3 separate regions of the Homo sapiens genome follow, and regions 1 and 2 are each linked to region 3. Evidence: fine-mapped expression QTL. A gene starts in region 3. Each other region holds a variant in brackets. All regions are shown on one strand. Distances are from middle to middle. Region 1 overlaps ZNF277 (zinc finger protein 277). Region 2 overlaps ZNF277 (zinc finger protein 277). Region 3 holds the start of ZNF277 (zinc finger protein 277).

Region 1 (10,433 bases), 83 kb after region 3:
GAAAAAATAAAGAAAATTATGGAGATGAACTGTACTCTAGTGATTTTTGGACAATGTGGGCTACTGATATTTGCATAAGAATTGCTATGGGGTATTAGGGAGACTGGAGGACATTGTCAGAGTACATATAAAGACAAAGTAGCTTATAAATGTATATATATAACTTCACAGCACCAAATATACATACTAAAGAAGAAACAGTTGGAGAAATGCCATTTGGTACAGGGAGCAGAACAGCATAGTGTTTGAGTTTAGGCTCAACTCAGAATGTTTAGGCTACTGACTAACATTGTGACTTTGGGAACTTAGTTAAGTTTTCTAAATCTTGATTCTCTCATCTGGAAGATTGGATTATGGTAGTACTACTGAATAAGATAGTTAGAATTAATTAGGAAAATGTCCTAACACACCTTGCAGGTAATTTGCAAATAGCAAGTAGCTGATAAATGTTAGTTGTGCTGTTGATTATTATTAATACCATAGGCTTGTTTTCAGCAGTCAAACCAATAAATTTCTGTATATCTCAATTAAATCTGTGGAAAGGATGTAATATAGTACTTGTTATTTCCTACATGGCAGGTAATAATTACTAATGTTACCTTTATTTAGAATATGCTGCCTTTTGTAGCTATATACTAGTGGATGTAAAATACTATCATAGAGTTTCATAAGTATATTACTTATCTCTCTTCCTCCATTCTGTTTTTCACATTTGAGTTTAAATGCCTATGAAAGTTAACCTACTACTAAAAAATATAACCTACAACTGAAGAACTGTAGAATTCCAGAACTCCTTGATTTCATTACCTAATTTAATAAATATAGTAATTGATAACACCAGTTTTGTTAATAGTGCTTCTAAAGGGCTTATGTATTTTAAATATTCTCCGTACTGTCATGTATATCCTATGTGTTTTCACCTTCTCTGATATTAATTTTGTGAACAAAAATAAACAGTTTGATTTAGCATACTTTAATGTGACTAGAGTATGTTTGGGTGATGTATTAGAGACCCTCTTCTATGGGACACCTTCCTTCTCCAGCTCAGTTAAGTGACTCCCCCAACCGCTGCTGCTGTAAACCCTGTACATTCTCCATTTCTTTATATTTTTAACTTACTTGTACCTTCAAACAGACTGTGAGCACTTTAACCTTGGTAGCACTGAACATCATGCAACATCGAACATCCCTGTAGATAGTCAGTTGATTTTTGTTAAGTGAATGAATGAATGCTGCCCTCTTACATTGCTTATATAATTTCTTTTTTTTCTTTTTGAGACAGAGTCACGCTCTGTCACCAGGCTGGAGTGCAGTGGCATGATCTCTGCTCACTGAAACCTCCACCACCTGGGTTCAAGCAATTCTCCTACCTCAGCCTCCCAAGTAGCTAGGACTACAGGTGTGCACCACCACGCCCAGCTTATTTTTGTATTTTTTTAGTAGAGACACGGTTTCACCATGCTGGCCAGGATGGTCTTGATCTCTTGACCTTGTGATCTGCCCGCCTCTGCCTCCCAAAGTGCTGGGATTACAGGCTTGAGCCACCACACTTACATAATTCTTAAGCCATGGTCACCAGTGTACCAGTGACTGATTCAATTAATTCATAAATTAAGAATGCCTTTAAAAAGAAGATAAAGTAAGAAAAAAAAAATAGGAAATTTTTTTTTTTTTTTTTTGGAATGATGTCTAGCCCTGTCACCCAGGCTAGAGTGCAGTGGCGCCATCTCAGCTTACTGCAACCTTCACTTCCCAGGTTCAAGCAAGTCTCCTGCCTCAGCCTCCCGAGTAGTTGGGATGACAGGCACACACTACCACACTTGGCTAATTTTTTGTATTTTTAGTAGAGACGGGGTTTTACCATGTTGGCCAGGCTGGTCTCAAACTCCTAACCTCATGATCCGCCCACCTCGGCCTCCCAAAGCTCTGGGATTACAGATGTGAGCCACCGCACTTACATAATTCTCAAGCCATGGTCACCAGTGTACCAGTGACTGATTCAATTAATTCATAAATTAAGAAAACCTTTAAAAAGAAGATAAAGTAAGGGAAAAAAATAGGAAACTTTAACGGGAGAACTAATATTAACCTAATTCTGAAAACTTGTCTGTGGCTTAGTTTTTGTGTCTTTCTTTCTGAAGAAGGTTCTCTTCTTTCTGAAGGTTGCCTGACTTTCTGCAAATGCCAGAGGCCTTACCCTAGTTTCTTTACCCCAGTTTCCTGATTACTAACTACTAAATAGCCTGTATAAGGTGACAGGTGTAGACGTCCACTCTGGCAGACTAAAGGGGGCTACTGTCACGACTGGCTGTGGTTTTAGGCTCTGAAATGAGAGACATAGACTTTACACATACTTCAGCTCTTAAAGATGCTGTAGAAGATGTTAGGAAGAGGAATAATATAGCCAGGAAAAATGTTTACCACATCACATATGTCTAGTGATCGAGCAGTCATCTATTTGTTCACAGAAGCCTGAATTGTAATGCATACTTGTGTAATAGGCAAATGATAAACATAAGTCAACATAGAAAATTGCCATGAGGGCCACCCAGCACATACTGTGTCTACCCAGCGTGAGAGCTTTGTTCTTGTTTGTGACAAATAATCAGAAACAGGAAAGAGTTTGCAGATGCGACAGGAAGCAACTTAACAGACAGGCCTGGCATCATCTGTCGCCTTAATGTATACCATTTATTCCCTTGGTGTGATGATTCTTAGCCATAGGTCACAATTGAGCCTTAGAACCTTAACCCAGAGTGTTGCAGCCTTCCCCCTTGCAAGTACCCCGGGAATTGCTGCCATTGGCCAGTGTCCAAGAAGAAGGCTTGAACAGCTGCCCTGACAAATGGGTTTCCCCCATTCAAGCAAGCAAATGAGGGGTTTGAGCTGCTTTGCAATACTCCCTGCCTCTGGGCTACAAACACTGTTTAAAATGATAATAAAGTATCCTACTCTCCAGCACTATGTATTTTTCTTTTTGGAGACATGTAAATATCTTTAGGATCTTTTTAATGCAGGAGGTGGGAAATCATCCATATGAAGAGTTGGTTTCAGCTTTTCTTTCTTTCTTTTTTTTTTTTTTTTTTTGGTCTATTCCAGACAGTAAGGATTGTATCCTGGAGCCGCTTTCCCTGCCAGAAAGTCCAGGTGGCACCACCACTTTAGAAGGTTCTCCATCTGTGCCTTGTATTTTCTGTGAAGAACATTTTCCTGTGGCTGAACAAGACAAACTTCTGAAGCACATGATTATTGAGCATAAGATTGTCATAGCTGATGTCAAGTTGGTTGCTGATTTCCAAAGGTAAGTTCTGTTTTTGTCCTTAAAAGAATTAAATTTGACCATGTGTGGTGGCTCATGTCTGTAATCCTAGTACTTTGGGAGGCCAAAGTGGGAGGATCACCCGAGGCCAGTAGTAGTTCAAGATGCCAGCTCTAAAAACAAAATTTAAAAATTATCTAGGATCAATGGCATGCACCTGTAGTTCCAGCTACTTGGGAGGTTGAGGCAGGAGGGCTGCTTGCACCCATGAGTTCGAGGCTGCAGTGAGTTATGGTTATACCATTGCACTCCAGCCTGGGTGACAGAATGAGACCCTGTCTCTTAAGAAAGAGAATTAAATGTATTGTTTGTTAAAGGAGTGACATAATCTATATATAAAATAATTCCCATACAAATATGAAAATTCATATTCATTTTCAGGTTTCTCCTTAGACTTAAAAAAAAAAACTTTACAACTCTTTTGTACTTCTGAGACTTTTTTTTTTTTTTTGAGATGGAGTTTTGCTATTGTCACCCAGGCTGGAGTGCAGTGGCACGATCTCAGCTTGTTGCAACTTCTGCCTCCCATGTTCAAGCGATTCTCCTGCCTCAGCCTCCTGAGTAGCTGGGATTACAGGCACCTGCCACCACGCCCAGCTAATTTTTGTATTCTTAGTAGAGATGGGGTTTCACCATGTTGGCCAGGCCTGTCTCGAACTCCTGAGCTCAGGTGATCTGCCCACCTCAGCCTCCCACAGTGCTGGGATTACAGGCATGAGCCACTGCACCCAGCCAACTTCTCAGACTTTAAAAAAATCTTTACATTATTTTTCTTGAGTCTGTAAGTTTGAGAATGTCACATACTAATTTATTTTCTATAAGTTCTCTAAAGAGATGAACTTTCCAAAGAGTAGATAATACTCACTTTGCAGCATTCCATGACATTGTAGATCTTATTGATGTCTCCCAGATTATGTCTCATGTTTTAGGCCATAGACATTCTCTGAGTGGGTCCTTCCAGTAATTCCAGAATAGACTTGGCAACAGGACACTCAAAAGGCAGTGTTTGGGAATGGGATCCTTGGAGACTTTCAAGCCAAAAGGATATTGCCCAAACAAATCTCAGTTTAAATGTTGTGATGAGGTTGATTCCTTTTTTCCCAATTTATAATTTCTGGAAGTAGTTGTCCAAGAGAAATACCTTCCCTGTATAGTTACTGAAAGCATAAAATTTGGTGTATCTGGTAAGGTCCCATTTTGAGGTATTCTGTCCTGATTTCCCCATAAAACATTGTAGTAGCCCAGACATTGAATACCCCTGCATCTAAACTCTGTTTCTCCCAGGCCATATAAAACATTCCTAGCAAACAGCTTCTTTCTTATGATAGGTCTTGCAAAAGAGCAAGCTGTATTATTAAGAGCTGACTATGAAAGTAGGAAAGCCTGGGGTTGAGTGCAGGCTTTCACACTTCCTAATCTTGTGATTTCCTGCCAAGCTACCTAACTACTCTAAGCATTGATTTTCTCATCTATAAAATGGGGGTAACACCAGCCCTCATGGTTATTGAATATTACATAAAACAAAGTATGGAATGTGAGGGCGATCTGGCTGTGACATCTGTCACCCCATTAATCGCCAGGGTTGATTCGGCTGATCTGGCTGGCTAAGTGGCTGTCCCCTTCCTCCCTCACCACTCCATGTTCATGCCTCCCAAAGCTGTGTTCTCAGTCAAAGAGGACAACCATCTC[CACTAGAAGAGGACCAGT/C]CTTTGGTCAAGGGTATACGAGTAGCTGCGCTTCCCTGCTGGAACCTCCAGACAAGCTCTCAAGTCCATTTGTAGGAGAACATAGGGTAGTCAAGCTTCCAAGATTCCAGACACATCCAAATGAAGTGCTGCATGTGGCAGTCTGCCTTTCTTAAAAAAAAAAAAAAAAAAAAAAAAAAAAGAAGAGTATGTGTAGCATCTGCTAGTGCCTGAGACATGTGTACCTGATAAATGGTAGATAAAATGCAAAATTTTATTTGTATTTTTATCACCGAAGGTATATTTGAAATCTTAGTTTTCTGCAGCTATCGTTTGAGTTTTCCATTTGTATTTATGCTAATCTAAAAACCTAATTATCATTTGTAAAATATAGCTTTTGAGAAAATTTCATTCAAGTTTCTAAATAATCTAAATTTTTGGAAAGATAGTTTAAGTTGGAATAGCCAGCATACCCACAGGGGTAATGATAACTATTCTCTAGCCTTCATCTCTGTCCTTATTGCCTAGCACCAATACTGAATATTTACCATGTGCCTTCTGTGTATGTTGCCTTATATCGACTCAGCACTACTATTTTTCAAGAGATTTTGGTGCTGCCTTATCAGGTCTCAGAGATAGGAGGACAGTTAATTGAATGATATATATTGCCAACTGCTAAAATAAACTAATTCCCTACATGCTCTCATAGGACATACTCTCTGCTCCTCATTATCATTTGTTATTCTTTATTCTCATTAAAATATATGTGTGTGTATGTCTTTATTCTCAGAGTATTCTGGGAGCTTTCTTATATGCAACCCAGTTATATGTGGTGAGATCTGTTGATTTTGTTTCAGACACTTCTTAGGCTAGAGATCTTCTAATTCATACTCAACCATTGAAAGAAATACTACATAGGTTATTCTTTCCTAAGGCTTCTATTAGTCAGCTTTTCTTTAATATGAAACCTTTATTTTTCTTTTTGAGTCCTGGCTGGAGTGCAGTGGCACGACCTTGGCTCAGTACAACCTCCACCTCCCTGGCTCAAGCAATCCTTCCACCTCAGCCTCCCCAAGTAGCTGGGACTACAGGCATGCACCACTACGCCTGGCTAATTTTTTTTTTTTCTTATACTTTAAGTTTTAGGGTACATGTGCACATTGTGCAGGTTAGTTACACACGTATACATGTGCCATGCTGGTGCGCTGCACCTAATTTTTTATGTTTTTAAATTTTTATGGTTTCACCATGTTGCCCAGGCTGGTCTAGAACTCCTGGGCTCAAGCAATCCACCCACCTCGGCCTCCTGAAGTGTTGGGATTACAGGTGTGAGCCACCGTGCCTAGCCATGAAACTGTTCTTTTATTCCCTTTTATCATATAAACACAAATTTTCCTTCAGGAATTGCAGAAGAACAGTATTAACTACCAGTGATAATTGAATAGTTTAAGATTTTTCTTTCTCCTCTGCCCGTAAAGTATGTGAGGAATGTCTGAATCAGAGTTTGTATTCTCCTTTGTGCTTATGTGTCATAGTTAAGTAGCTATATTTGTACTAATCAATCTCTCTATTTGTATCATTGTTATTAATCTCATTATCCTAATATGCATACGTGGGCAGAAAAATTGAATTATTTACTAGGTCTCGGGACTTAGGAGTCAGTAATTAAATGCTGGGATTATTCATGCTCTAAATGCAGATATACAATAAAATGGATGCTTTAATTAAAAAGAAAAGGATGCATATCTGATATAAGTGCTTTCTAAAGTGTATCTTTAACATGTATTTGAAATATGGAAACCTAGATTTTCCTTGTCAACTGTCCTTCTAATTAAGTAAAATTTTCACTCTCAGCAAGTATAAATGTGATTAATTCTGATTGATCAGGCATGTATCTGAGTAAACTCTGTTGCTTTTAAATACCTTTGACTGTATCCAGTCTTCTTTAGATAATAACCTCCTACTACTTAAGGAAACTAAAAATTCCTCTCCCAAACAATCCAGGTATTGATTGTTATGATCAAAGTTAAGTTGGAATCTTTTCAACATCATGTAACTTGTTTCTAATTTTAGAAGACAAGGTATAAGGTGTAGGGTTGGGAGGAGGGAACATGAGAGATTTATTTGGCATGAACACATTCACTCAGAACTCAAGAGGAATTGTTGCTTCTGAGTACAATAGATAATGAAGATGATAATAAATAAGAGATGGACTTACCTTGTGGTTTACAAGAAGTAAGCTATAAGTTTTCATACTAAATATATAATTTTTTATGAAACAAAATAACACTAAAACTTCCTGGGGCAGGAGAAATAAAAACAAAAATAAAAATCTTTCCATTGAGTCCATTTAACATAGTTATTTATACTGAGCTATTTGCTAGCTTTATTCAGTAGATAAAATTGCTCTGGAAAATAAATGTTAACTTCTTATTTCTTACCCTTTTCTATATTAAATTCCACACATTCACTGCTACTTAATTAACAACCATATTTCAAACCTTTATGACTATGTCAATAACCATACCAATTACAGTGAGGGTGGGCAGGCAAGATATTGCAACAAGGATTTTTTGTGAGACAATTCTGTGAGACATGATTTGAAGTTCCTTTGGAAGAAAAAAAGTATTTGCTGATGACCTAGTAATTACTTTTATAGATTTTTAATGAAGTATGAAATACTTTGATAACTCATCCAAATAGAGTTCCTACCACATGTTATTTCTTAGTGGCCTTTATATATTGAGTAGCTGCAATTGTAGCTTTCAGTAAACTAGAGAAGTAGGAAAAATACAGAAGAGAAGTACTAAATGAGCTCTTAAATTTGAACAGTGTTCTAGTGAGTGGGAAAAAATGCCACAAGAAGCATGTACTGAAGATCTGCTATCTTTATTCTATCACTCAGTTGATTACAATTTATCTGAATGCCCATACCATCCGAAAGGAAATGTATATATTGACACCTCTTAATTATAAGCTTAAAAACCACTATTATGTGTTTAATAACTAGGATGTTTCTTTACTCAAATTTAGACATAGGTCAAATGTATGTTGTTGTTGTTGTCTATAGTATACCACAGTAAGATATGATGCCTAATTTTATATGTTTAAGTTGTATGATGGTTTATGGTTATATTTTGCTTTGTAACAGATGATTTTTTTTTCTTTGATGTTGTTGTCACCCAAGTTTTGGTTAGGAAGAGAACACTCAAATGACAACTTTGTTCCTCTTGGACCAACCTATTACCTGCTTTATCCCATGGGAAACACTTCCTATTTGAGGAGGGCAACCGAGGTTCTGCCAGGCAGAATCTCCCCATGATTCTAAGTTAATTGATGTCAGTAATTTCTTCCCATGTGCATATCACCTTGAAGTAAACTCTGATGGAAAGTAAGCATGTCATGTGATTCTTCTCTTCAGACATCAAAGAGACAGTACTCAAACATAGAAGTTTTTGGAAACTGAGACCCACTGACTATTGGAATCAGGCTCCTGTTACCTCTGTAGTGGAACTTCTCTGCACCCTTTCCTTGCCTAGTTAAGCAGTTCCAAAACAGCCCCAAACAGTTGGTGTCAATTTTCAGCCCTTAGGTAGCAACTTAGGAGCAGTTCAGACTGAGGGCTACTGTTAAGTAGTATGCCTTTCGGAAGGGGAAAACATTCTCTTCCTCTTCAGACTTCATTTCTGTACTTCTGGTTCTGCCTTGTCAAAAAGCATTCTATGTGACCTCATTGGTCTCTGAGGGGAAAAAAATGCTTCAACTCTCTATTACAACTTTAATTATAGGGGCTCTTTCCTGTCCCTGCCTTCCCTTTTCTGCATTTCTTGTACCGATTCGTCCCCACATGACACTAGAGGAACTGTGTTGTAGAAGATTGAGTTTGGCCTTGGAGCCAGAGAGACAAAGTTCACATCTCAATTCTAACATTTTAATTGACCTTGGGCAAGTAAGGACTCATTAAATGGTAGCTGCTAATAATTGTCATTATTGTCACTATCATCATTCTTCTCTTCTACCACTTTAGCCACCTATATGTGCCCTCTGACGCTATTAATATAACTATTTTGTCTTTTTCATCAAATGTTTGCTGAAATGTTGTTGTTGTTTTTGTTGTGTGTCTCATTATTTCCCTGGGATAAATATAAATTATTCACTACCTTAGTCTTATTTAAATATGTTACTTTTTCTTATAGTAATAACTGTCATATATATTAAACACCCAGAATTTTGGACAGCGTGCTTTACATGCATTATTCTATTTAATTATCAACAATTTATTTTGCACATGAATAAACTGAGTTTCAGAAAGATTAAATAACTTTAAGTTCAGGTTCATACCTTTGAATTCAAAGTCCTTGCTTCTCTATTCACCATTGCCTCCGGGGTGGTAATTAATACATTAACTATGATACTTTGACCACTGTCTTAATTTAAAAAGCAAAACTGCTTCTAGCATAAGATCTGTGCAGATAAGCAAGGGACAATATTGATTGTCCATTTAAAAAAAAGTCATTGGCCAGGCACAGTGGCTCTCACCTGTAATCCCAGCACTTTGGGAGTCCAAGACGGGCAGATTGCTTGAGCTCACAAGTTCAAGACTAGCCTGGGCAACATGGCAAAACCCCATCTCTACAAAAAAAATAGGAAAATTAGTTGGGCATGGTGGTGCGTGCCTATAGTCCCAGCTACTCGGGAGGCTGAGGTGGGGAGGATGTCTTCAGCCCAGGAGGCAGAGGTTGCAGAGAGCTGAGATCACTCCACTGCACTCCAGCCTGGGCAATAGAGCCAGATCTTATCTCAAAAAAAAAAAAAAAAAGTCATTAATAATTCAAAGAGCAGTCTGTTCACGAGGATCCAAGCTCTTGCCTGGTCATCTGTTCCACATGGTTTCACACAGATACTTTTCTAAGACTGTGAACATTTTCCAAAGTAAAGTAGTCTGTGTATTCAAGGAGTTATCACTGCCTTTCAACAGGCTCTAGACCCAAAATGGAACTAATTATATAGGGCTGACCACTAGTCTCCGTTTTGTCTAGAGGATACCATCCAGATAGTCCTCAATGGAGTGGCAACCAGGACTGACGATCCACTCCTTGGTGTATTCTAGCAGTAGCAGTAGGGAACCTCCAGAGGGAACTTGGCCTTCCTGTCTTTTGAAGTCAGTTATCTTAGCACCTGGTTCTGCCATGTATAAATTTGATTAATCATGAAAATAGATGTCTATATTTCAATTTAGAGGAATAATCCATCTTCTGTTCTAACATCTCTAATACAGGTTCTACTGTGTTCCTTCATCCCTGTCACCACTTTGTAATAGAAAATGTGCTTGGGGGAGAATAAGAAAAGGACTAGGAATGTCATTTTTATTCTCTTAAGCCTCCTCTTGTCTTCTCTTTCCCCTTTTTTCCTCTCTACCATGGGGTGGT
Region 2 (10,433 bases), 130 kb after region 3:
AAGAGAAAGAAAAAATATTGTAGATAGAAAGGCTGATTTGAGTCACTACTTTCAAAGAGTTCAGAAGTCAGTATGGAAAACCACCATGTAAGCACGTTAGTTTGAACCCTTTGTAATGGTATATGGAAAGTCAGCGTTCGACCTCTCCTATAGCAGATATATGCAGTCATTGAGTCATTCACACACAGAGCTCCTCACCTCCACTTCAAACGCCATAGACTCTGCCAGCGCAACAATGATGGGAACATCCAGGGTATCCGTAGCAAGATACACTCTAATAGGCAGCAGAAGTAGGAGAGCAAATGGACAGAGAGGCTGCATTTGGCTTTCTGAGCTCAGCAAATTGACAAGTTCCATTTTCCTTCTTAGGTGAGATAATTTCTGTGCTGAATCATTCATATCAGTTTCTGAATAGTAACAGACTTGCAAAAACATTAAAAGTCTTTTGCATAGTCTGAATTATCTACATCAAATTCTTGCTTTGTTTTCTCACAAACAAAAGAGTTCAACAGGTAGTGAGGATGGGTTGGGGATAAGGTGCCAGTTAGTTTCACATTCAGATAACCCTTCCTCAGAGGGCAACAGACTGTTTAACATCGAGGCTTCAGCTACATATTCCTACGATGCTCATGTTTCAAACCCTGAGTTTTTCTAAAGGGAATTGGTTTTGCTATGATTTTTATCATTCTTTGATTTAAATTTTTTTATTCTTAAAGTATACAAAGCCACTTATAACAAAAGTAAGCTTTTAACTGATTTTTCATAGTTTTTTATAGTTTTCTCTAGTGAAGTTATTTACACTTAAAACACTTCTCTTTCTGTTTCTGGTGGAGTTTTGTGTAAGCACATGTAAGTGTGTATGTATTAGGGCAGAAGTGTGATGGGTGAAGGGGATCTTTTTTTTCCATGTTTTTTTCCACCCTCTCATTATTCATGAGCCATCTGATGCAGGGGTTTGAGGGGGTGTCTGAACATCTTTAGTGATATGCCTTCCAAACTTTGTTTTTCTTACATTCTTTGCTTTCCTGACATGATTCATTAGCAGGCACAGTGTCTTAATTAGAGAGTTATGTGCTTTTTTTTTTTTTTTTGCTTTGGGTCTTGTTTCTATAATAAATCATATCTTTAACTGTACCAAATCAGAGCACTCTAGGAAACTGGGCCACTTTCACGTGCAAATTGCTTATTTCCTAATATACTGATAAACATGTACATTCATTTTCCTCTCAAGTGGGGTAAGTGGTTAATGCTGTGTGGCCTAGATAACTCTCTACATATTGTACTCAACACTGAGGAAGTTGCAAAATAATGCTTTGAGTTTAGAAGTTTAACAGTGAAAGATATTTTTTGTACTTTTGGCTCAAAATATTCATTGACAAGCAACATTTGCCCTTATCATTCAGAATGATCAAATCACAGAAGGCCCATACTTTAGTAATACCTTGCAGCAATAAAACCATGACCTTAAGTCCAAGTACAGAAAAACCAAGTAAGGCATGAAAGATTTAATTCATTACCAAACTTTCTAACAAGCATCTTGTTGGCAGTGTTGAGGCCATTTTTGGTGTTCTGTAATGAGATTCAGACACTTCATGATGACTCTGGGAAGTACATTATAGAGTCCAAATTAACCATCTCTAATGACATTATGATAGATCTCTGTATATCTAAATGTATGCATCATTTAGCTGATAATGACAGCTTCAAAACCTCTCATTAAGTTGATGAATAATGGATTTTCTTTCTCCCTCTAAATCATAATGGCACTCATAGTTCTTTGTTTTTAGCTAGATGAATACCTTTATTTGGGGGAAAAAGAGTCCATAATTGAGTGAATTTTGGTTTTGTTTTTCCAAAAGGATATTGAACAACAAAGCTATCCATGCTTGTAGCAGGTCAGGTGGGCCTGATCCTAACCATAGTTTAGCTGCTTGAAAACATATCCATTAATGTTCCTACCTCTCTCTTTGTGACATTGTCTGCTTTTGCATGGCACAATGGGAAGATTGGATAGAAAGAAGACAGGGCAAGAAGAGAGGAAGAAACGGCCCAAGGGGAACAAAAGAATTGGGCCAAAATAAATCATTCCTACTCATCACTCCATAAAGTTTTGCTAACGCTGTGACTAGGCTTGCCAGACATAGCGCCAAAAGAGTGGAACTTTTCCACTGATGGCAAAGGATAAAAGGGATTTGAGTAGGTACTAGAGCACCTACTCATGCCTAGTACTATTTCTTTATAGACAGTAACTCATTCATTTAATCACCTTAAAAAAACCTTTTGAGGTAGAATCTAAATTGACCTCAAGTGTATTTTTTTATTTTTTATTTCTAACAAATTGAATTCTACTTTCTAATTCAACTCAAAAAATAGTTTATAGTAATAGTACCCACTGTATGCCAGGCTCTGGAAATGTAACAATGAACAAAGGCCATTAGAATCCCAGATATTCTAATACTCATTCAGGGTTTAGAAACACTGGTTCAAATTTAAGAGAAAAGAACTTGACTGAAAGGATATTGCTGCTTCTCTAAAAAATTATCTCATTAAGGTTTCAACTTCATATTGCTTTTGCACTGTCATTAAGTCAAAAAAAAGTGTTGAATCAAACCATCATAAGTTGGGCCATCTGTATATCCTACTTGTACTGTTTCAAAACCATTTAAACATGGGTGGTTTTGTTTATTTTTTTGGTTTTGATTTTTTTCAAAGTTCTACATACTCTCTCCCTTCTCTTTCCCCCAATGTCTCTCATCCCTCTGTTCTTCCTACAAAGGAACTTGGAAAATCGTGGGAAGAAGTTCAGTTGGAAGATGATCGGGAGTTGCTGGACCATCAGGAAGAGTAAGAGTTGTTATTGCTGCTAATTAATTGCAGTGTTCCAAGAGTAAGAAGACAATGCTTTAGTTTGGTTTAAATTATGAAGCGGGAACATAAGAAGAAAAAAATACCTTCTCTGAGCCATGCATCCCTTCATGTAATGTGGCAAAAACTTGAATTCAAAATAACTTTGACATAAAAATTCCTAAAGACACTGTTATTCCAACTAAATTAAAGCTATTGATTGAACACACAAGTAATATATAATTCAGAGAAAAATACATTCCGAAGTGCTTTGCCTGCTCAGTTAGTGCTCAGACCTTGAAGTGATGTGATCTTTGAACTCTCCATGTTGCTGTCATTGGAATAGAGAATATAACTGCATTGAAGTTAATCCTGTTCTGTGTTCGGGCCATTGATGACTAACTTTAAACATTCACAGCTTCTTTGCTTGAAATTATAAGCTTGAGAAATGTTCTTTTCAACCTAAAAGGATTTCTTATTTTTCATCTTCTTTTCAGTCAAAGCTTTTTGGCCTTTTTTCTCTCTCAGGATTTTAAATTATTATTATTTTAATAGTGAGGTAAAGCCCAAAGGTAGAGAGCTGCCATTTGCTGAATTTTCTTGATGCATAGAGATTCAGGCAGAGAGTCTTCCAGACTGAAATAAAAACATCTTTCCCATTAAGACATACTAGTTGGAATATTTAATCAGTGAATGTTAAAGTTTTAATGACACAAAAGGTTATAAATAGTAAGTCATGACCTGGGCCGGGACTGGTGGCTCCCTCCTGGATGGATAGAGTTAAGGAAAATGTTTCCTGTTTTCTAATAGGGAAGCTTCTGTGTGAATTGGGTTAGGTTGATCTTGAGAGTCTTATCAGTGATCATTTCTGAGCTTGCCATGAAAAATTCTCTCATCTGAATTTGAATGGGTGTTCCTTGTCTCCACAACTCTTCCCTCCTGGCAGTTTTCCTGGTTTGGGAATGATAAGAAGTTGGTAGTATTTCAAAAAGGGAAATGCCAAGGAGCGGGGAAAGTGGTAAAAGGGATCCTGTATCCTTTTTGAGTTCCCTGTCTACCGCCAGATTTAACACTTGCCCAGTTTAAAATAATCAGTATTTCCCTCGTGAAAGAGACACGGTTTGCCTTTGTAAAATACACTATTTGTCATGCAGAAACACATTCCCGGCATCACACCTCACAGCGTGTGCACTCAGTGGTTGTGGTTAATGGGAGAGAGCATCACATTTTCTGATATGTCTCCTTTGCAAATTAAACCTCATTGTCTCAGGACGACATTCCTCTGACTGTAGACTGAGATAGCTACTCAGAAGAACGGCAAATAGGAGAAAATGGAACAGCACCTGTTCACTATGTATATTAATTTCATGGTGCTGCTTTGAATTTCAAAAGCTATATCAGAGAGTCATAATATGATGTGACAGTCTTTACCAAAATGTCAGAGTTGAAAGAGATTGGCAGGGTTTTTTAGTAAGGAGAAAGCAATACCAAGTCACTGTGTAGTATACTCTCTTAATGAAGGGAATCTCCGTATTTTCTCTCCTCTTTTTTAATTCAGTGACTGGTCTGATTGGGAAGAACACCCTGCCTCTGCAGTCTGCTTATTTTGTGAAAAGCAAGCAGAAACAATTGAGAAGTTGTATGTCCACATGGAGGTAAGATACCTGTATTTATTTGAATTTTGTTTTATTCTGACAGGGGAAAGCTAGTAATTGTTGCACCCTCATCTGCTTTTACTTCAGTTTCCCAATCATTATTCCAACCAGAAGAGACAGGCCAGGTCTGTCAGGGAGAACCAGAGCTCAGGGCAATTTAGTTAGTACAGTTGACTGGACCCGAGTGAGCTGTTTGTTAGTGTGAGATTTCTCAGACCACTGATGCCATCTCACCTTTGAGATGCTTACAAGATCATTCTAGCTCAGCAGGTGGGACAGGTTCTGAGTCTTTTTTCCAGTGCTTCTTGTGCTGGTGAATAGGAGAGCAAGAAGGGAGAACATTGCCATTTACAAAGGTCCCGGAGGAATAGGGAAAAAGGAGGGTGGGTAGAGAGGAGCTAGGGCATGATCCTACAGTTCCTTCAGGTGCCAGGATTTAGAGAGAAGAAACTAGGGAGCATTCCTAGTGTGGGCTTTCCCTTCTGGATGCCATTTTTATGTTATAGTGAAGCTTGGAGCTAGCAGTTCTAAACCTTTTTCACCCCAGTATACCTGAGAGAGGACACACACCCTGCACCTCTGATCCTTAGCTGCACAAGGCGGATAGGGAAGGGGAACATGTAATGATTCATGATAGTATCACAGCTTGTGGGCAGAGGGGTGATTATAATAGAAAAATATTACTGGATGATTCTGATATCTCTCCGTCCCCTCCCTGCAGCCACCTCTGCCAATAGTGGACCATATTCTCTACTTTCACCCACTTTCACCTCACCCTTATTCAGAAATACTGTTCTTAGTTTAGTAAAATAAGGGCCTAGAAAGCGCTCAAAAGACCATAAACATTTTCCTTGATTTTAGTTTCTCTGAAAAAGGTTCCCACTAGTATGTGTGTATAATTTCCTGTGTTTAGATTTAATTCATAATATCTTAATGTCTTTGTATTGAAGGCAGCCTTAGTATGCCTATCCTGTGTAA[G/A]GATTACCTTTTCGGCATCCTTGACAGGTGTCCTTAACCTCTGCTGGGTCACTTTCAGTGATAACATCACGAATTCCTAATCATCCTTCATATGGTGCTACACTAAATGCCATCCCAGTGAGTTAAATGGTCTTTATCATCTGTGAGATTGTAGGTTAAAACATTTACACAGACAATTGCAGGTGTCAAACAAACACGCAAAAAATAAGTGCATTGTAAAAATCAAAAGAAAGCGTGATTTATAGGAAGGTGTGAGTGAAGAGAAGCTTTGAGGTTTAAACAGTGTATTTGACAGCATAAAATGAAAAGCAGAATTTGTAAAAATTACCTATGTGGGGCAAAGAACCTATATCCATAATTCTAGTCCAAATGCACAGTACAATAGAAACATATCTTACCTACACTTTTATCACACTGCAGAATGCATACATAGACTTCTACATTTTTAGAAGGCTACAAAATGGATAACATTGTAAATTATAAAAACTATAGATATAAGCTATGAGCAATTATAATGTTGTTGCTGTTCTTTGATATGGAGTCTCGCTGTGTCACCCAGGCTGGAGTGCAGTGTCACGATCTCAGCTCACTGCAACCTCTGCCTGCTAGGTTCAAGCGATTCTCGTGCCTCAGCCTTCTGAGTAGCTGGGATTACAGGCACCCACCACCACACCCAGCCAATTTTTGTATTTTTAGTAGAGACGGGGTTTTGCCATGTTGGCCAGGCTGGTCTCAAACTCCTGACCTCGGGTGATCCGCCCACCTCGGTCTCCCAAAGTGCTGGGATTATAGGCGTGAGCCACCGCGCCCGGCCCAATTATAATGGTTTAACTGATTGACATGACTTGTTTGGACTATGCTGTAAAAAAGTTGGGTATGGAGGGAAGTAGTTAGACTTGGAAGACTTCAAAAGCAGAAGATACCGAACTCAGACTGAGTTTCTAAACTACTCAAACTCCTGTGAATAAGTTGTTTATAACTTCAGCCTGAAAGATTAAATAATTCATATGCTTACAGATGTATTCATTCCTTTTTTAGGATGCACACGAATTTGATCTTCTCAAAATAAAGTCAGAACTTGGTAAGTTTGATTCAGAGGTTTTTTTCTGTGATGCTTCATTTTTTATAAACCATCCTGTAAGCTATGCCTATGTTCAGTAGCTATGATTGGAGAGTGCACCACCAAAACATGTCTCTCTATAGATGGTCTTGACAGAACTCTCTGTGAAGCAGTGATGCTCAACCATAATAGTCAAATATGGTTTTTGGTTTCATATACTCCTTCTTTCTCTTTCCTACATATATGAGTGCTTCAAGTGAAATATAAGTTAGTGGTTAATAATATATCATAAATTGGAGGGGGCTAGTGGAATATGGATTTTTAAGTCAAACTAGAGTTCAGATTCCAGCTCTGGCACTTACTGGCTATGACATTGGGCCTCAGGTCAGAAAAATGTTATGAGGAGTGAATAATGTATGGTAAATGGCTACTGCACTGCTTAGCAGTATAGCTAGGATTGTTTGTTATAGGTGTACCCAATGTATCATTCTAAGTATCACAACAATAGAACGATTTGGGGCATTAAGACATACGTAAAGTACTGACTTGCTAATAGATCTAAGACAGTAAAAAACTTACTTCTCACAGCTCAGCTCAGTCACTGCTTTCCTAGGTCCTTGGATGTGTTACTTTGCTGCTTTTATAGACATATATATACATTGTTTATATAATTAGCTTAGTAGTCAAGCATGGGCTTTGCAGCTGACAGCTATCTATGCGATGCTAGGCAGTTTCCTAATATGTAATGTAGGTATGATACTACCTATCTGATAGGGTTTTATGAAGATTAAATGTATTAATACATGGAAAATTATTAGAATAGTGCCTAGCTCATAAGCCCTGTGTAAATATGTGCTGTTATTATTTGGTATCTATTATTATGCTTTATAATTGTACTGCCTCTTCAGGTTGATTAATAAAAATAAGTGGCTCCTTTAAGAAATTATAATAGTGCAAAAAATGGGTCTGAACAGTTGTCTAATGATTCTGTATTTTGTCATTTTCAGGATTAAATTTCTATCAGCAAGTGAAACTGGTCAATTTTATTCGGAGGCAAGTTCACCAATGCAGATGTTATGGCTGCCATGTGAAGTTCAAATCCAAAGCAGACTTAAGAACTCACATGGAAGAAACTAAACACACTTCGCTGCTCCCCGATAGAAAGACGTGGGATCAACTGGAGTACGTACTGCAAAACCAAATGTGCACTTCTTACTCCAACTCTTTGATTTTGTCCCTTTATTTAATTTCTTTAAGCCTACAGAAAAAAAAGGAATACATATTTATTATAAAAAGTATACATCAGTACAGTGTGGGGAAAAATGTAAAAATATTCAAAATGCTTATTTTTAAAATAATCCCCCTCTTACAAATGAAACCAAGTATTTTTCAGTATTTGTGATATGGAGATAGATACATATGTAGAGAGATGAAGTAGATACAGATTTTTTAAATTATATTTTATTAACAAAATATTGTAAATATCTTTCAATAGCCAGTATCCATCTGTTGCATCCTTTCTAATGGTTGCTAAATATCCATTGTATGGATATAATCTATTCTGCGAGATACTTAGGTTGTTTCTTACTTTTTGCTATTATAATGATACAGTGAATCTATATGCCTACATTTTAGCACACTTATCTAATTATTTAATTAAGCTGAACTCCTAGAAATAAAATTACTATGTCAGAGTTTGCACACTGCTAGGACTTTTTGTATATATTTTGTATATTGGCACTTGAAAAAATTAAGCAGTTGGTCATCTGTTGTTGGATTCCCATGTATCCTTTGCCAGAACTTTGTGGACTGGTTCCCAAGTATCCTTTGCCAAGAACCTTCTGGACTGGTTCTCACATCGTTCTGGATAACCTCAGTCGAGGGCTCCTCTGAGAGACTGTGGGGTTCTAGCTGCCCAGAGCTCCTTCTGTTCTTAGGGAATGTTAAGTCAGTTCCCCCAGAACTTTAACCAGAAAGTTCTAGTTTTTCTCCTTCAGAAAATCCCACACTTGTGAGGGTACCCTGTTTTTATGATCCTTCTTATATAAATTAAAATTTGTAATATTCCAAAAGTAACTTCAAAATGTATTCAGAGAAGGAACCAGAATAACAAACTTTATATTCCGTAAGTGTTTCCTTTTGTGATTACCTAGAAAGAAGGAACTATTAGGCTGGAAAACAAAACACAAGGAAGAGCTTATTATTCTCAATTATTTGAATAATTTGTGTTTGAAAAATTAACTATATTTGAAGTTTGTTAACTTATAAGGAAGAACTAGGACCTTTGAGTAGAAATGAGAAAGATGTCATTTTTAGCTTCACAGGAGGTGTATCAAACAACTAGATCTACCCACTACTGGGGTCAGCTACCTTCGAAGATAGTGTGTTTTGTTATCATGATAGATGATCAAGCAGAGGCTAAGTGGCCAGCGGACAACTCCAGAGGCAACTCTGGAGGGTGGGAGGTCCACGATCTTGGTTTACCAAATCTGGATAGTAGATTTGGTAAGGTTGATGTCAGCCAGTAAAAGTCAAAGTGAAAGCAATCAGAAGTTGTCTCCAGTATAGCCTTTGCAAAATGCTATGAAATTGTTGGCAAGGATACCTGACAAAATTATAGTAAATGTGTACATTCAGCTACCTGGACACTGTATTAGCTTGGTAATTTAATACTATGTATCTGTGGTTGTTTTCAGGTATTATTTTCCAACCTATGAAAATGACACTCTCCTGTGTACACTATCTGACAGTGAAAGTGACCTGACAGCTCAGGAACAAAATGAAAATGTTCCCATCATCAGTGAAGATACATCTAAACTGTATGCTTTGAAACAAAGCAGTATTTTGAACCAGTTGCTACTATAAGAGTACTTGAAAACCTAGAAGAAACTACCACAGAAGCAATTTTTCATGTTTTTCTCCTATGAGACAGATATGAAAGAACAATTTAAATTTGAACATCAACAAAAGATTGGTCCTTGGTGAAATAAACTTTTCAAAAATGAATGTTCTTTTCAAAAAATAAAGTAGAAAAATGCACTTACTAAGAACATGAAAAAAAATGAAGTAGGAAAATAAGATGAAGACTTTGTATTTTGGCTGTAAAGTTTTATTGTGTGATCATCTTAAATTATCTCACTTCATTAAACTCATAATTATATATAGAAGTATATGTCAATTACAAAGAAATGAAATGTTCAAATTATTTATAAACCTGATTTTTCAATCAGTAGTTTCAGTCTCCTCCCCAAGGACCTTCTTCATCCAACAAGTTGCAAAATTTGAATATCCCTTCTGTACTATATTGGGTGAGCTGTAAATGTAATGACTAAAAGAAAAGCCACAGAAGAAAGAAGAAATGGTCAAAGACGTGGATAATATGCAAATTGGCCATTATATTAGAACAATCAAGAGCTGACTGTGTTATTACCACTTTCTGCCTAGGGTGGCCAAATTCCCTAGAAATAGACATCAAGCCAGTTAACTTCACTTTTCCCTGCAATTTGTATGTCACTAACATTTAAATGCCATTTTTTAAAAACATAACCACAATACCATTATGACACCTAAAAAACATTAACATTAACTTAATATCATCTGTTTTCAGTTTTTCCCACTTGTCTCAAAATGTATGTTTACAATATTATCAGTTTCATTACTGATGAATATTATATGCCTCCTGATAAGATGTACTGAGGAGGACAGAATATCACTTTTGTAGATTTATACCAAAAATGCATAATTTGGATATAATGAAGAAACAGTCAAATCCAAGTTTGAGGCTGGGCACAGTAGCTCATATCTGTAATCCCAGCACTTTGGGAGGCCAAGGCAGAGGATCACATGAGGTCAGGAGTTCAAGATCAGCCTGGCCAACGTGGCAAAACCCCATCTCT
Region 3 (10,433 bases):
AAAAAACTAAGAGTAAAGGAAACACATCCTTATTACGCTCTATCACACACATACGCTATGATTAAAGCATCTTTCTAAGGAGAAAGACACCTAACTATCCTGTATGAATACGAGAAGGTGCATCTTCTTCCACCAACATAGAAGGGGCTTTAAAAAGGAACATGATTCCTACCCAGATGAGTTCAAAAACTCCTTCAAGAAAAATAGAATACAGGAATTTATGTGATGACTGAGTGATACTCGCACCACACAATTTATTTTTTAAATGACACTGTGACTTCAGATCAGCTTGTTCTGAGTTTTGTTTCTTATAAGGTTCATGGATTTTCTGCACCGATCAATCCAGCCCGTGTTCTCCTGTCAAGCTTAACTAAGCTCACACATGTAAAACATCTGGCTAGGTTTGAGGGGTGCAGCCTTCAGCTCAGGAAGATGCCATGACTCATCTGTGAATCTGTGCATAAAAGCCTGTTGGACAAATGAACGCAAAAACAATCTGCAAAGGTCTTAGCTTTCTCCATGAATAATTCCCACCACTTTAAGGCGGGGTGGGGAGGGGGGAGGAATGGGGGGGTGTGCTAACAGATGAGGACATGCAGGAGGTAGAGGTAATCTGAGGAAATTGGTGAGTATGCGATCAAGAATGCTTTAGTCACCATTCTGTGCGATAGATCACTAAAGCATGTTCCCCCTGTCTCACCAAAACTTTGTACACTTTGATCATCATCTCCACTTTCCCCAACCACCCTCTTCCCCCAGACTCTGGCAACCATCACTTTAATCTCTATATTTATGAAGTAAACTTCTTTAGATTGCACATGTAAGCAAGATCATGCAGTACTTATCTTTCTGTGCCAGACTTACACTTACTTCATTTACTATAATACCCTCCACATTACTGAAAATGACAGGATTTTCCCCTTTTTCAAGACTATATAATATTCCATTGTGTATAGATACTACATTCTCTTTACCCATTCATCTGATGATGGACACTTAGGTTGCTTTCATATCTCAGACATTTTGAGAACTGCTTCAATGAACATGGGATAGCAGATATTTCTTCAGCATACTGATTTCAATTCCTGTGAATATATACCAAGCAGTGGAATTGTTGGATCATATGGTAATTCTATTTTTAGTTCATTGAAGGTCCTCCATGCTGTTTTACATAACAGCTGTATTAATTTACATTCCCACTAACATGTGCACAGCGTTCCCTTTTCTCTGCACTCTCACCAATACTTGTTACCTTTCATTGTTTTTATACAGCCATTCTAACAGATGGGAGGTGATATCCACAGAATGGAGATACAATAAATAACAATGCATTGTATACTTCAAAAGTGCTAGAATGGATTTTAAATGTTTTTTACACCACAAAAATGGTAATTATATGAGGTGTAATTTGTTAATAGCCTGATTAATCACTCCAACTGTAAACGTACATCAAAATATCACACTGTACACCATAAATATATACAGCTGGGTGAGAAGGTGCATGTCAGTAATCCCAGTTACTCAGGAGGCTGAGGTGGGAGTATTGCTTGAGGCGATCAACCAGGAGCTTGAGGCTACAGGCTATAGTGCACTATGATGGCGCCTATGAATAGCCACTGCACTCCAGCCTGGGCAACAGAGCAAAACCCTGTCTCTAAATTAAAAAAAAAAAAATGAAAACTTAAAAAATATATTATTATTATTTGTCAAGGAAAATACATTTAAAAAACAAACAAAATGCTTCAGTCACTGCCCATGGAGCTCCTACTAGCCAGAGAGAATCAAACAAATTGAGAAAGAGAGGAACCAGCACCTCAGTTCTGGCAGCTTGCCAGGTAGCGTTTGCTTACCTCTGATCTTACTTAAAAACCAAGTGAGATATGTCACAACAAAAGTGTCTCTGTCATAGCAGTCTCAACACAATGAAGATGTTTTTCTAACCAAAGAACACAGTTAGTTGGAAGAGCTCTACAAAATTAGTACCAGGGAAGGCTTTAGTTAACACTTGCCCCAGACGCTGGGACCCAGAAAGGCTAAGTGATTTACCTAAGGTTACACAGCTGGCAGCAGTGTCTAGCCCAGAATCAAGAGCTAACTAGAATCTCCTAAGGTGAAATTGCCTATCACTGTGCCTCTTAACATGATTTCTAAAAGACAAGGTTCCCTGTTCCTCAGAACTATAACTTCATCACTATACCTTTTCCTAAAATCAGAACACTTATGACTGACTTTTCGTTGTTTTAATGAATTTAATCATTCATTAAATGGGACGGTGCCTATACATCAGTTACGAAAAAGAATTTCCATCTCCGATACATTTAATTACAGATATAAAATTTAACTAATTTTACCCATGTTTACAGTATGCTGCTTAAAATTTAATCATAAGTATATAAAAGCATAATTATCTCATACATAAATGAGGGTATATAAAAAGTACCTTTGCAGAAATATATAATTTATACTAAAACGTCACATATTCTGTTACAAAGACTGATTTATTTCAAAGAATGAAGAAACTAAATTACCACTACACTTGGTAACAAAGATCTGTGCCCATAAGATCTTTTCTTTAACATCTGTAAGAACTACATGAGAAAAACACAAACATTAACCAAGGTTAAAAGAAAAAACAAACAACTTGCAATATAAGCAGCTATAAACAGTGCCCTCCATGGTGAAAAATAAAGTCCACACATAAGTATCCTAGCAAAAATTTCACTACACACACACACACACACACACACACACACACACACACACGCCTAACAGATGGATTCTAAAAAACAGCTAAGCATTCCACAATCCAAATGCTCAAAAATTAATAATAAAGGTTAATTAACATTCTGGCACATGTGATATTGAGAACAACAGCAGTAATTTGGGGCAAAAGACCCTCTCTCTGCTCTCGTCCTTCATCTCATTCAACCTCTTTTTCTCAATTGTGAGCACACCCTTCTGCCTCCCCTACTCTGCAATCAAATCACAACCACCCAAAACCGAGGTGTCTGCTGCAGCCCAAAACATTTGACTGATAATATCCGGTTTGCCATTCCAGGAAATCCCAGAGTGGTTTTTAAGCCTCTGCCCACCGCTTGTAAAGAAAGGCAAGAGAGGAACTAATCGATACCAGCACCCCAGCTGTGACCTGGCACATGAAGAAATCAAGAAAATAAATCCCATCCATAATCTGTATAATTTAACACTTGGAAGAAAGCAACATCTGGGATCGACTCCAAGCAGGACAGTTTTGCCTGGATGGATCTGAGCTTCCTGCACTGAGTGTTAAAGCCGCTTAGGAGGCGATGCCCTCGGGTCCCTCACCAGTCCAGCAAAGGGACTATCTTTTTCCCTAGCAAGGGTTAATCTACCTCCCAAAAAAGAGAAGAGTGAGGAGAACGAAAATAACAACTACTAACATCTACTCCTTGCCAGTAAAGAGGCTGGCAAAGACTCCTCTGACACTTTGAAGGAGGGAAAGCTGGAAACCTTTCCCAAAGGTGGGTTCAGGTCAAACTATTGTCTTGGTAATTAGTCACAATCCAGAATGGAAGCTAACGTGAAATGTGGGAATGATTTTGTTGAATCCTACAGTCCTTTCAATGGACCCCAAAGTCCTATCCCCAGGCAAAGTTGGGAAAAAAAAAAACAAAAATCCCCTCGGACTACGACTCCCTGGGAAGGCTTTCCAGATGTTTTAAATTGCAGGAAAATGAATTTAGAACATAAGCAGATATCTACACATCACCTAAATCACTAGACCTGTCCTCAATTTTAAAACACACACACACACACACACACACACAAAGTACACCAGTCGGCAGAACAGGGCATTATAGGAAATAAAGAGTGTTAGTAAAATCCATAATGCTTTCTGTTAGACCTTCTGGGAGGTTATAATTGCATTTGGCCGGCTGCAGCCTTGTCGGAGAGCCTGGCTTCTTAATAGTCTCAACCCTAAAAGGAGTAACTGTCAAGGGGCGACCCAGCTGAAATCAAACAACAAAAACGGGAACTGTAACCCGCCTGAAATGGGAGGAGGAAAAGGAAGGGAGACTCCTGTATTCATCAGTCAACATTAATGTCCTTTGTTGTTCACCTTTACACAGAACAGCGAGAGCTATCCTGTTCCTTTTTCTCCGAACGCCAGTGTCAGGGTATGCTTTCCTAAAAGCTATCTCCCTGCCCCCAAGAACCAGGCTTTCCGATCCCCCTCCCCATTTATCACTCAGCAGCCCTGTACCGCCACACCGCCCCCACTGCGCTCACCCGGGGTCGAGAGGGTGGCCAGAAGTAAAAACACTGCTGAAATACCCGTTCTTCTCCAAAGACCAAAGAACCGAGCGGCGCAGATGTTGAAATTTACCAATGCCCCCGCCCCGCAACATACACACCCCATAAATCCGGGATCGCAGAGAGGGAGGAGGGTCAGAGAGGGCTCAGCTTGTCAGAGCGGCTCTCTCCAGGACCCTGCCACATTCCACACTCCGGGAATGTCGATCCGAGCCAGAGGGAAGGGTTTGCGCCTCCCTACTGTTTTGGGGGTGTTCTCTCTGCCCGAGTGTTGTTGTCTCCCTCTCCACCCAGAGGAACCGTTGCAGCTCCCTGTCGCTTTGGGGAAGAAGGGTAAGGAAGGAGAGAAACCCCATTCGCCTCCTCTTCCAACTTGACACACACACACACACACACACACACGCCCAGTCGCCACTCCAAACTCCGCAGGCAGAGCCCGAAGCTAGCGGGCCGGCCGCGCGCTCCCCCAAGCTGTCCCGGCGCTTCGGGAACCAGTGCGGGGCGCGCCGAGCAGGCGGTGCGGGGCGAGAGCCTGGTGCGCAGCCCTCTGCCTGGAGCTGGCTCGGCAAAGCCCCGTACCAGCTGCGCGATGCCAGGATTAGGCATTTTCAACCGGGCGGAGCGAGAGGGGCGCGGGGGCAAGGACGAGAAATGCGCACTCGCTCGGGCCAGAGCAGAATAAAAGTTCGCCCCGCGGAGACTCACCCACGCCGTATTTCTCGTGCTCCGTAGGTATCCACATGGCTAAAGGGGCTCCGGGGTCTTCAGGCTTTGTAATCCCCGCGCCCCTTCTCCGGCTCACAACAATGCACAGTCCCCGAGCAGCGCTGCAGTGCCGGAGCCCAGCGGCTTCGCGCGGGCTGCGGGCGCTGGGCAGGATCTGCGCTGGAGGCTCCCGAGCCCAGCGTTGACACTGCGCCGCCCGCAGCTCTCCCGGCGGCGGCTGCTCACAGTCCTCCGACGCGCTCCCGGGTACCCGGCGGCGCAGTCATTGTTCTGATTCACTGAACTAAGCGAACACGCCGGGGCACTCTCCGGCGCACCCCCGCCCGCCAGCGCCTAGTCCAGCCCTCCCGTCCCAGGGCCCCGCAGCACGCTGGGAATTGTAGTTCTTGGCCTCCCCATCCCGGAAGTGGGCGCGGCAAATGTGGTTCGGGGCGGGGATTCAGTTTTACTGATTGCGTCCTATTGGTCCAGAGCGCGGCGTAGGTGTGGAGAAAACATTACGTCGACGGGGAGTTCGCCTCCAGTAGCGTTTCTACTGGTGCCACCCCGCCTCCGACCCGCCCTGCGGCCCTCCCTTTTCTTTTCTGCCGGGTAATGGCTGCTTCCAAGACCCAGGGGGCTGTCGCCCGAATGCAGGAAGACCGTGATGGGAGCTGCAGCACAGTCGGGGGTGTAGGTTATGGGGGTGAGTACGGTGCCCCGGAGGCGCGGCTGATGTGTCTTCCTTTCTCTATGACCGGGTGTGCAACGGACCTCTGGTCTGACCCTAGGAGCCCTTCAGCTCTGGGGCCACCTGGGTTCGACTGGGCCCCACGGGTGGTGGCCCAGCGGGATGGGTTGGAGCCGGTGGCGGCTACTTGGTTGGGGCTGCCCGGGGATGGCGGAGAAAATGCCATGGGATGGCGGAGAAAATGCCATGGAATGGCCTTCCCCTCCGCCGGGGAAGCTCCCTGAGCGTTTGTCTTCTGGTTTGGAGCTCCCAGCTTTGAGCTAGCTGCTGAGTGGGTTTGGTTCAGATCTGGTTCGCGCGCGTGTGTTTATAATTTTGGGATTAGCAGCTCTTTCTCCTCACCAGTACACTGCCTTGGTTTGCTTGGTTTGACCTCGCAGGTGTGTTTTATTTAGCTTCCGGAGTATTTCCAGTCGCAGACTGGTGGTCACTGCTCTCCACTCTACAGATTTGCCCAGTTTGTGGCTGAGGTGACCTCTGAAGGGAAAGTGTGTGTATCTCACAACCTCCCTGTAGATGGTTAACTGCTCTGGGTGTTCTTCAGATTTGTATGTGGAGCCTGAGAGATCTTCCCAGTCTCTGGGTCCTTAGAGAAAGAAAAGGAAAGTGATAGATAATTTGCACTCGTGGCTTCAAAGAACATTTGAAAAGAGTTTTGAAAACCATCACAACTTTGGCTGTACCTGACTTTCAGGTTGTCCTCTGATCCACTGTAGGAATAAAAAACCAAATTTTGAAAGCTGCAGGTGGATTGTGTTTAGGACTCTTTTACCTTTAGTCTATCCCTCCCCCATTCCCCCCACCCCATTTTTGTCTTGATGTGTAATTTAGCACAAGTTGTCTTTTTCTGATGAACATGGTTTGGGGCTTAAATATAGTTCTCAGACTGTTGCGACTTTGTTTTTCGATTTATTTGTTTTTGCTTTCACAGTTAAATTGATATCATCTTAAGTATTTACCTCAGCGGCACAGAGTTGAAGTGCAGTTTTTTCCCACTTCCCAACAGTGGAACTCCCTACTCTGAAATTATTTTAGTACCTCTACCAAACAAATCTTTGGTAGTCTCCTGAGTTAAATATTGAATTTAACACCCTAATGGTTTATTTTTGGGTTGGTTATATATTGGGCTATCTGATGGTAACAGACTATTACGGTTTCCTAGATTTTCAAAGTTCCAGAGGGCTACCAGTTTAAGATCTAAACTGGTGAATTTATCTCACAGTCTAACTTATTTTAAAAAATGGCCGGGCACGGTGGCTCACCCCTGTAATACCAGCACTTTGGGAGGCCGAGGCGAGTGGATCACAAGGTCAGGAGTTCGAGACCAGCCTGGCCAATATGGTGAAACCCCGTCTCTACTAAAAATACAAAAATTAGCCGGGCGTGGTGGCGGATGCCTGTAGTCCCAGCTACTCGGGAGGCCGAGGCAGGAGAATCCCTTGAGCCCGGGAGGCGGAGGTTGTGGTGAGCCATGATCCACCACTGCACTCCAGCCTGGGAGGCAGAGCAAGACTCTGTATCAAAAACAAAACAAAAAAAAAGGATATGCCTTTCAAAAATGTAAAATATTTAAAAATATTTATTTTTAAATTTTACAAGTTTAAAAGTTTTTAAAAGCACTTCAAACCATTCAGAAGTGTATGAAGTAAAAAAAATGAAAATTCCCTCACCTCACAGCACCACTCCCCGAGTATTAAGTGATAAGAGTTTGGTACATATTCTTTCCAACATATTCTTCTTCTTCTTTTTTTTTTTTTAATCCTACAATCCGTATTCTGTTAAACCACCATATTCTTATATGACACACGTCTGTATGATTTGATTTTTTTTTTTTTTTTTTTTTTTTGAGACGGAGTCTCGCTTTGTCAACCAGGCTGGAGTGCAGTGGCGCGATCTCGGCTCACTGCAAGCTCCGCCTCCCAGGTTCACGCCATTCTCCTGCCTCAGCCTCCCGAGTAACTGGGACTACAGGCGCCAGCCAACAAGCCCGGCTAGTTTTTTGTATTTTTAGTAGAGACGGGGTTTCACCGTGTTAGCCAGGAGGTCTCGATCTGCTGACCTCGTGATCCGCCCGTCTCGGCCTCCCAAAGTGCTGGGATTACAGGCGTAAGCCACCGCGCCCGGCCTATGATTTGATTTTTATAATAAAAAGGGATAAATCTATATAAACTGAAAGATCTGCAACCTTCTTTTTTCTTTCAGCAGTCTATCATAGAAACCCTTCCACGTCAGTACATTTGTTTCCTTTTTTTTTAAGGACTGTGCCCATCATATTCCAAAATATGATTGTGCCATTCTTTATCCATTCCCTTATAAATGAACATATAGTGTGACTTTAGTTTTTCAGTAATGTTGCAATGAACAACTTTATGTACATATATTCTTGCCCACTGGTTGTATATTTTGGGAGAAAATTGCTGGATCAAAGGTTATGCAAGTTTAAAATTTTGACAGATGCCAGACTTTCCTCTTAAAATATATTCAGCATACATTGCCACCTGTAGTATATGAGTGTTCTTTCCCCCATATTGTCACAAACTTTGAGGAAATAATCCAGGACCAATGTTTCAATGACTAGTAGATTGAATTAAGTAACTGATAGAAAGCTTAGTTTTTGATTCCAGTTTGTTTTCAATAAAAGTGTTGAGTAGTAGTGAATTTGCGGTATCTATAACATAAAAAAATTTCTCACCCTCGGTGAGAAATACCCAGTATTCTCATTGACTTGTAGCAGTCAACAGGAGAAATTAATGGTTGATTTTTTATGTCATTTTTATAAGATAAAGTTGTCATTAAAAATTCTGCTTAATAACCTATGTATCATTCTGTTACTTTTTCCAAAATCTTTTCAAAGCCAACAAGGTGTGATATAAATTTTAGGTGTAAATATTTATATTAAAAGTATATTTTTTGTTAGGCAGTCATTTAGGTTATCAAGTATGTCTTTCCCTGTAAAAATCATACACCTTTTTGGATGAGTTCATGTCCTTTGTAGGGACATGGATGAAGCTGAAAACCATCATTGTGAGCAAACTATCGCAAGGACAGAAAACCAAACACCACATGTTCTCACTTATAGGTGGAAATTGAACAATGAGAACACTTGGACACAGGGCAGGGAACATCACATACCCGGGCCTGTCGTGGGGTTGGGGGATGGGGAAGGGATAGCATTAGGAGAAATACCTAATGTAAATGACGAGTTAATGGGTGCAGCAAACCAATATGGCACATGTATACATATGCAACAAACCTCCAAGTTGTGCACATGTACCCTGGAACTTAAAGTATAATAAAAATAAAATTTTTAAAAAACATACACCTTTTTGACTTCTTGAAAACTGCTTCTTTTAAGAGATTTTCTTCTTGCTCTGATTAAAATGTTAGTCTGTGTGTTTAATACCCTGGGACAGTGAGGCCTAGGAAGACTTTTTATAGAAATCCTTGCAATTCCTCAAAATCTCTGCTAGAGTGAGTCAGTGGGTGGGGTGCAGGCAGGTGCAACACTCACTGAGACCACTGTGTTGCCAGACTTCTGTGGCTCCATCCTTCTCCAAGAAAGTCCCCACATTGAGGTCAAGGATTTTTTTGCTTTTTTTGTTTTTGTTTTTTGTTTTTTTTTTTTGTTTTTTTTTTTGAGACAGAGTCCTGCTCTGTAACCCAAGCTGGAGTGGAGTGGCACGATCTCAGCTCACTGCAACCTCCGCCTCCCGGGTTCAAGTGATTCTCCTGCCACAGCCTCCCGAGTAGCTGGGATTACAGGCGTGTGCCACCATGCCCAGCTAATTTTTATATTTTTAGTAGAGACAGAGTTTCGCCATCTAGGCCAGGCTGGTCTCAAACTCCTGACCACAGGTGATCCACCCTCCTCGGCCTCCCAAAGTGCTGGGATTACAGGCGTGAGCTACTGCACCTGGCACACTAGGTCAAGGGTTAAAGGACACTGCTTTACATACATCTGAACAGTAACCAGAATTTCAATTTGTCTCCTAAAATTAAGAACAGATAATAAATAGATTCAGCATCCCTCACGTGGTGTCATTGGCATTTGTTCTTTTGCTGTTTTTAAAAATCAGCAAGGTAGCACAATTCAGTAATAATACATTTAGGAGGCTTTTGTGACTGAGGCTATTTCTTCTGAGTATTAATCTGTATCTCCATATTGTAATATTCTGTCAAAGTCAACTTTTTTCCCTCCGAATGGGTGTTTAGTAGTTGATGATTTTGCTAATGCTTGGATTCTGGACCTTATTATCTGATGATTTTGGTAATGTTTATCTTCCAGAGAACTTACTATCTCATGTGTGATGTCTCTGGAAGAAAGAGGGAAGGGTAGCAGGTGATGTAAACTCCTCATTCTTGTATTTCCTATTTCAATAAATGGCATCAAGTCTAAGCTAGAAACCTAGGAAGCATCCTTGATTCCTAACTCGCCCTCAGGTACTGAATTTGATCAGTTAGCAAGCCTTATTTTTCTGCGCCTGTAGTATATTTTGAACCTGTTCCCTCTATTCATAGCTACAGCCACTGTGCTAATTCCATTACTAACCCTCACCATTACTGCTGAATTACCTACCTGCATCTCCCATGCCCCAGAAAGTGCTCTTGAGAACCAGTTGTATGTGTGTTTGTCAGCCTGATTCTGTTCTTGGCACATTGTTAATGTTTAATAAGTGTTTGACCA

The links.
Region 1: its variant is fine-mapped to the expression of ZNF277 in whole blood (TOPMed, PIP above 0.99).
Region 2: its variant is fine-mapped to the expression of ZNF277 in nasal epithelium (TOPMed, PIP above 0.99).

Annotation. Positions count from the first base shown.
Region 1 is chr7:112,283,774-112,294,206 of GRCh38, forward strand. ZNF277 (zinc finger protein 277) reads left to right here. Exons shown (of 12, transcript NM_021994.3): 2 at 3,100-3,301. It also overlaps the pseudogene RN7SKP187. Among named protein-coding and RNA genes, the nearest start is that of ZNF277-AS1, 62 kb to the right of the region's middle. The variant CACTAGAAGAGGACCAGT/C (reference allele first, on the strand shown) is at 5,009.
Region 2 is chr7:112,333,328-112,343,760 of GRCh38, forward strand. ZNF277 (zinc finger protein 277) reads left to right here. Exons shown (of 12, transcript NM_021994.3): 8 at 2,777-2,844; 9 at 4,403-4,499; 10 at 6,516-6,558; 11 at 7,545-7,719; 12 at 9,234-10,433. The coding sequence ends at 9,402. It overlaps ZNF277-AS1 (ZNF277 antisense RNA 1), which reads right to left. Exons shown (of 3, transcript NR_186626.1): 2 at 7,728-7,795. Among named protein-coding and RNA genes, the nearest start is that of ZNF277-AS1, 12 kb to the right of the region's middle. The variant G/A (reference allele first, on the strand shown) is at 5,478.
Region 3 is chr7:112,201,104-112,211,536 of GRCh38, forward strand. ZNF277 (zinc finger protein 277) reads left to right here and starts at 5,592. Exons shown (of 12, transcript NM_021994.3): 1 at 5,592-5,704. The coding sequence starts at 5,614. DOCK4 (dedicator of cytokinesis 4) reads right to left here and starts at 5,296. Exons shown (of 53, transcript NM_001363540.2): 1 at 4,999-5,296. The coding sequence starts at 5,035. RefSeq lists a silencer at 5,168-5,517 and an enhancer at 5,688-5,807.